2 linked regions of the Homo sapiens genome follow. The protein of the gene in region 1 purifies or fractionates together with the protein of each later gene. This does not show direct contact. Each region holds a gene or a part of one and is shown on either strand. Other genes may lie near its edges. The genes, in order: SPAG7 and ACAT2.

Evidence for each region.
Region 2: the proteins of SPAG7 (region 1) and ACAT2 fractionate together in Homo sapiens (co-fractionation; one large-scale study listed by BioGRID). This does not show direct contact.

What each region holds. Positions count from the first base shown.
Region 1 is NC_000017.11:4,958,590-4,961,954, reverse strand, and holds the end of SPAG7 (sperm-associated antigen 7), read left to right. Parts: intron 1-1,101; coding exon 1,102-1,169; intron 1,170-1,407; coding exon 1,408-1,496; intron 1,497-1,636; coding exon 1,637-1,721; intron 1,722-1,843; coding exon 1,844-1,933; intron 1,934-2,038; coding exon 2,039-2,195; intron 2,196-2,311; coding exon 2,312-2,421; 3' UTR 2,422-2,729; downstream 2,730-3,365.
Region 2 is NC_000006.12:159,764,970-159,768,788, forward strand, and holds part of ACAT2 (acetyl-CoA acetyltransferase, cytosolic), read left to right. Parts: intron 1-2,035; coding exon 2,036-2,217; intron 2,218-3,541; coding exon 3,542-3,659; intron 3,660-3,819. UniProt on the Homo sapiens protein: Involved in the biosynthetic pathway of cholesterol.

The sequences.
Region 1 (3,365 bases):
CCCTACTTCTCCCTTATCCAAGGTTTTGCTTTCCAAGGTTTTAGTTACCTGCAGTCCAGAACTGTTATATACAGTAAGATATTTTGAGAGAGAGAGAGAGCATAGCCACAAACTTTTATTTCAGTACATTGTTATAATTGTTCTATTGTATTATTGTTATTCTTAATCTCTTTTTTTTTTTTTTTTTTTTGAGATGGAGTCTTGCTGTGTCGCCCAGGCTGGAGTGCAGTGGCGCCATCTCTGCTCACTGCAAGCTCCGCCTCCCAGGTTCACGCCATTCTCCTGCCTCAGCCTCCCGAGTAGTGGGGACTACAGGCGCCCACCACCACACCCAGCTAATTTTTTGTATATTTTTTTTTTTTTAGTAGAGACAGGGTTTCACCGTGTTAGTCAGGATGGTCTCGATCTTCTGACCTCATGATCCATCCACCTTGGCCTCCCAAAGTGCTGGGATTACAGGTGTGAGCCACTGCACCCGGCCATCTCTTTTTTTTTTTTGAGACGGAGTTCACTCTTGTTGCCCAGGCTGGAGTGCAATGGCGCGATCTCAGCTCACTGCAATCTCTGCCTCCCAGGTTCAAGCGATTCTCCTGCCTCAGCCTCCCCAGTAGCTGGAATTATAGGCGCCCACCACCACACCCGGCTAATTTTTGTATTTTTAGTAGAGATGGGGTTTCACCATGTTGACCAGGCTGGTCTCGAACTCCTGACCCCAGGAGATCTGTCTGCCTCGGCCTCCCAAAGTGCTGGGATATAGGCGTGAGCCACCATGCCTGGTCTATTATTCTTAATCTCTTACTGTGCCTAATTTATAAATTAAACTTTATCATAGGCATGTATGTATAGAAAAAGACATAGTATGTATAGGGGTCAGTACTATCCACAATTTCAGGCATCCACTGAGGGTCTTGGAATGAACCCCTGTGGATAAGGGGGACTATTAGATAGAATAAACATCAATAAATGCTTGATGAATAAACGCTAATCCTACCTTCCCAGCCTGACACCTCCCAGTGGACACCACACTTCACTTGAAGCCTTAGAAACCTTTCCCACCCATGCTTCCAGCCCTGGCTTCATGTTGCCATTTCTCACCCCCAGAACAGGCCGCCCGCCTGAAGAAACTACAAGAGCAAGAGAAACAACAGAAAGTGGAGTTTCGTAAAAGGGTGAGAACAACTGGAGTGATCAAAGGCAGACTCAGGAAGGACTTCCAATAAGTTAAAATTGGAAGGTTGAGGACTCAGTTTTGCTGAAAATGTCTTGAGAGAGGTGACGCATGGAAGCCAGTGGCTTGGAGGCTGGGGAGGGTGCTGGGGAGGCGTAGAAGGGCCCAGGCTCAGCTAGGGAGAGGGGTACTTGGGTGGAGCCATTGTCTCATATCTGCTTCCTTTCCCCTCTCCCAAGATGGAGAAGGAGGTGTCAGATTTCATTCAAGACAGTGGGCAGATCAAGAAAAAGTTTCAGCCAATGAACAAGATCGAGAGGAGCATACTGTGAGTGTCCCTGGGCTGGGGGAGGAAGGAAATGGGTGGCTAGCGGGGCATGAAAGGGCCAGCGGGGGGCTCCTCCAGAGGAGGGCACTAGGCCCGCTCCTGGCTCAAGATGCTCTTTCCCCTCTGCCATCCCATCCCAGACATGATGTGGTGGAAGTGGCTGGCCTGACATCCTTCTCCTTTGGGGAAGATGATGACTGTCGCTATGTCATGATCTTCAAAAAGGTAAAGGGCCTGAATTCCTCATTCTCTCCTCTCCCCTTTGTAGCCTTATCCCCCCTCCCCGACCAAGGAATGAAATGAAACATTTGTATGGACTCTGACCCCATCATTCTGCTCTTCTTCAGGAGTTTGCACCCTCAGATGAAGAGCTAGACTCTTACCGTCGTGGAGAGGAATGGGACCCCCAGAAGGCTGAGGAGAAGCGGAAGCTGAAGGTGAGCTATGCTTTGCAGCCCTTGGGGTCCAGAAGCCCACCACCTGGGAGGGGTGGGGGTTTGGGCTGGGGCCCTGAGCACCAGTGCCCCCACTTTCACCCCTAGGAGCTGGCCCAGAGGCAAGAGGAGGAGGCAGCCCAGCAGGGGCCTGTGGTGGTGAGCCCTGCCAGCGACTACAAGGACAAGTACAGCCACCTCATCGGCAAGGGAGCAGCCAAAGACGCAGCCCACATGCTACAGGCCAATAAGACCTACGGCTGTGGTGAGGCCACAGTGCGGCTGGGGGTGGCTGGGAGAGGAGCATAGGATGCGGCAGGAGGGCAGTGGAGGCTGAGGTACGGATTTCTAGGCCCGCCCTACCCTCCTCTCTGCCCCTAGTGCCCGTGGCCAATAAGAGGGACACACGCTCCATTGAAGAGGCTATGAATGAGATCAGAGCCAAGAAGCGTCTGCGGCAGAGTGGGGAAGAGTTGCCGCCAACCTCCTAGGCGCCCCGCCCAGCTCCCTTTGACCCCTGGGGCAGGGCAGGGGGCAGGGAGAGACAAGGCTGCTGCTATTAGAGCCCATCCTGGAGCCCCACCTCTGAACCACCTCCTACCAGCTGTCCCTCAGGCTGGGGGAAAACAGGTGTTTGATTTGTCACCGTTGGAGCTTGGATATGTGCGTGGCATGTGTGTGTGTGTGTGAGAGTGTGAATGCACAGGTGGGTATTTAATCTGTATTATTCCCCGTTCTTGGAATTTTCTTCCCCATGGGGCTGGGGTACTTTACATTCAATAAATACTGTTTAACCCAATGTCCTGGTTTGTTTATACACAGAAAGGTGGGTCCTGGAACCACTGGTAGAGAAGAAGGGGAATAATTTTCAGTTGAACAGCATAAAATTGCTGTTTGTGTAGGTTAAAGATGGCCAGTTGGAACTATCAGAGGTTTTTTGTTTGTTTGTTTGTTTTGAGACAGAGTCTTTCTCTGTTGCCCAGACTGGAGTGCAGTGGTGTGATCTCGGCTCACTGCAACCTCTGCCTCCAGGGTTCAAGCGATTCTCCTGCCTTAGCCTCCTGAGTAGCTGGGACTACAGGCATGTGTCACCACACCCGGGTAATTTTTTGTACATTTAGTAGAGATGGGGTTTCACCATATTGGCCAGGCTGGTCTCTAACTCCTAACCTCAGGTGATCCGCCCGCCTCAGCCTCCCAAAGTGCTGGGATTGCAAGAGTGAGCCACTGTGCCCGGCCCAGAGGGTTTTGTAAGATGCTGTATTTTAAGAGTGCAATCGGGCTGGGCATAGTGGCTCACACCTGTAATCCCAGCATTTTAGGAGGCCAAGGCTGGAGGATCACTTGAGGTCAGGAGGTCAAGATCAGCCTGGGCAACATAGTGAGACTTTCTCTCTACAAAATTAAAAAATTGGTTGAGCGCAGTGGCTCACAC
Region 2 (3,819 bases), on another chromosome or scaffold:
AAATGTTTATTGAGCACCTACTTTGTGCCAGGCACTATTTTAGCAGCTGGAGATAAGCAATGTTCATATCAGATAGAAATTCTCATTCTCATGAAGCTCGTAGTATGCTAAATGCTAGCATTATTAATTGTGTTAGCACCTCATTTCTTTCTTTTTCTTTTTTTGAGATGGAGTCCCACTCTGTTGCCCAGGCTGGAGTGCAGTGACGCAATCTTGGCTCACTGCAACCTCTGCCTCCCGGGTTCCAGTGATTCTTCTGCCTCAGCCTCCCAAGTGACTGGGATTACAGGTGCCTGCCACTGTGCCCAGCTAATTTTTGTATTTTTAGTAGAGATGGGGTTTCAACATGTTGGCCAGGCTGGTCTCGAACTTCTGACCTCAAGTTATCCACCCGCCTCGGCCTCCCAAAGTGCTGGGATTACAGGCATGAGCCACCATGCCCAGCCCTGTACCTCATTTCTTCTTTTTCTTTTTTTTGAGATGGAGTCTCACTCTGTCGCCCAGGCTGGTGGAGTGCAGCCGTACAATCTCGGCTCACTGCAACCTCTGTCTCAGGTTCAAGCAATTCTCCTGCCTCAACCTCCTGAGTAGCTGGGATTACAGGCGTGCACCACCATGCCCAGCTAATTTTTGTATTTTTAGTAGAGAGGGGGGGTTTCACCATATTGTCCAGGCTGGTCTCAAACTCCTGACCTCAAGTAATGCGCCCCCCTCCCCCGGCCTCCCAAAGTGCTGGGATTACAGGTGTGAGCCACTGCTCACAGCCTGAGGCACCGCACTGGGCCTGTCTTTTTAATATGTATATGATCCTGCATATGTTTTCAGTCTCAAGTAACCTTACCCGTTTTTAGTTTCCAGCCTAATCCCAGATTGATAACATTGTGATGAATATAATCTCTAAGTTTTTATCAGCGACTTATTTGCTAGTTCTTCCCCACAAACTCTCCAAGGAAGGGTGGTAGGTTTGAGTATATCTGAAACTGGGAATAGAGTAACCACTTTATAAACATTTACCATTGACTCTGATAACAGACAATGGCGATTGAGAATATTTGAAACTTTTAACTCCATTCTCTTCTGTGCTACTTTAAGTAAATTATGTATTTCTTCCCAACTAAAGGAAGTCCCATAGTTGAATTATGAAAAGATATTTGTGTTTCAGTACTCAGAATGAGAAAAAAAGGTATTTGTGAATTCTGAGTTTGTATATATTTTGTTATATAACCATTTAAGCATAGTGTAATGAATACTAAGCAAGAACAGAACTGCTTATTATCAAAGGTTTTCCTTTTTAAGTAACCCTTTTTCTTCTCAAGTGTCTTAAGCCATGATCTTGGGAGCAAATGGCCCTAGTTAGAAACACTGATAATGCCTAGGTTATATCCTGTGTTTATTAGACATAGGTTTGATAATGCTTATTTAAGCACCCCCCCGCACTTTTTTTTTTTTGAGACGGAGTTTCGCCCTTGTTGCCCAGGCTGGAGTGTAATGGTGTGATCTCAGCTCACCGCAACCTCCGCTTCCCAGGTTCAAGCAATTCTCCTGCCTCAGCCTCCCTAGTAACTAGGATTACACTCATGCGCCACCACGCCTAGCTAATTTTGTATTTTTAGTACAGACAGAGTTTCTCCATGTTGGTCAGGCTGGTCTCAAACTCCCGACCTCAGGTGATCTGCCCTCCTTGGCCTCCCAAAGTGCTGGGATTACAGGCATGAGCCACCGCGCCCAACTATTTAAGCCATATCAAAAGATGAGGATGACACTTCTTTCTTAATGTATTAATGACTTATTTATGGAGGAGAAAGCTTATATCTATGAAATACCTACAGAGCAGCACAAGGCAGTATATATTCAAGGGCTAGACTGTGACAGGTGGAGAGTGTATACAGGCCTTTTTGCCTCCAGTGGGCACTTACTTGACCTGTAGGCTTTCAGAAGTGGCAGGTAACCCAACTGGCAATTTTCCACACACTTTCACTGTGACATTTTGTCTTTCTCCTTGATTGCTAAGAGTCCTCTGTGTTCCTCTTTCTAGGCTGTGGGCAGAATCCTGTTAGACAAGCCAGTGTGGGTGCAGGAATTCCCTACTCTGTTCCAGCATGGAGCTGCCAGATGATCTGTGGGTCAGGCCTAAAAGCTGTGTGCCTTGCAGTCCAGTCAATAGGGATAGGAGACTCCAGCATTGTGGTTGCAGGAGGCATGGAAAATATGAGCAAGGTAAGGCCTCTCTGATGAGGTGGCTTTCACTGACCTCACACTGAGAAACTCATGTCTATGCCAGAACAGAGTAAACAGATGCATAGCAGAGCTGGAACCAAACAGTGAACAAATAAACAGAAATGACAACCTTGATCCCTACTTGAATGTGAAGTATTCTTCAGTTTGGGTGGGAAATCCGGGTTGATAAGAAGTTTATCAACCAGTGTGATTGGAACCGAATATACTTTTTCTAAACTATTAATGAAGCATGTAATATTTTCTGAATTAAATTCATATTAGTTGCTTGATGTCCTTGGTTTTAAATTTCTTTCCCATTGTGAGTAAAAGGCAAAAAACAGATGTTGCCACTTACCTTCCTGCACATGACAAGGAGATCCTGGGGACCAGACTTTTTGACCTTTTCAGGGTATAGAACATGTAAAAGAGGACCACCAAGTGGTGCCCTTCTCCAGTAGGTTTGCCAGGCATGATTTGTTTCACCAAGTTCCATACCTCAAACTGGCATAGTGGTTGAAAGAAAAACTATACCCCCTGCTTCCTACTGATGCAGCTCAGGGGCTGAGGTGCAGATTCCCTAGATAGAAGCTGATTCAGCCCAGCCATTGCTGAGGTTCAGGAGGAGGCAGGCTAAAGGTAACAAAAATAATCGGAGTGATTTTGATGGGATGATACTGACATCTGTGTAGTACTTTACCAGGTGCTTTTGTACATGTGTTCACAACAGCCCCATATAGGGTAGATGATACCATTCCCAGTTTACAGGTAAGGAAACTGAGGACCAGAGCCAGCATTCAAATACAACTCTTCCGACTCTAAGTCCAATCAATGACTCTTTCCATTCTAATATACCTGCTGTTGAGTTGGTGAGAGTTAAGACTGGCCGCTACTCAGAAATCCCTCCCCATCATTTAGTTAGCCTGATTATTCTCACTGTAGACATTATGTCATCCATTGAAATAGGTAACACATTGTTAGCTTTACTTAAGCCCTTAGAGGATTTCTTCATTTAACAGATAATTAATTGCCTCGATGGAAAGAATAAATGGAATTCTTAAGGAAACAGGACACAGAATGGGTAGGTTTGAGGGAGAATTGAAAATGGGTAGGTAGGAGAGTAATCGTTCCCAACAATAGGAAAGATGAAGTCTGCTAATTCCAGGGGTCTTTAGACCTTGGCCTGGCTGAGGACCTAGAACTGGGGAGAAGGGCTGCAAAGGGGCCTAGATGAAGACTTAGGAAATACTAGATAGTTTTGAGTTGTATTCTGGGGAGAAGACTAATTGCAACTAAGCCTAAATCCATTTTTATTTCTGACTTCTAGGCTCCTCACTTGGCTTACTTGAGAACAGGAGTAAAGATAGGTGAGATGCCACTGACTGACAGTATACTCTGTGATGGTCTTACAGATGCATTTCACAACTGTCATATGGGTATTACAGGTAAGGCAGACATGGCTGAAACTGTATTAGCTTTAAAAAGGTTAAAAAGACCATATACTAATCTGCTTCTTAGGTGCTTTCGTCCTTATGGCCAGAGACTGTCTTAAGGATTTTTATATCTCTTCTTTGATTAACTGAAGTGAAGTAAGTATTCTCTTCT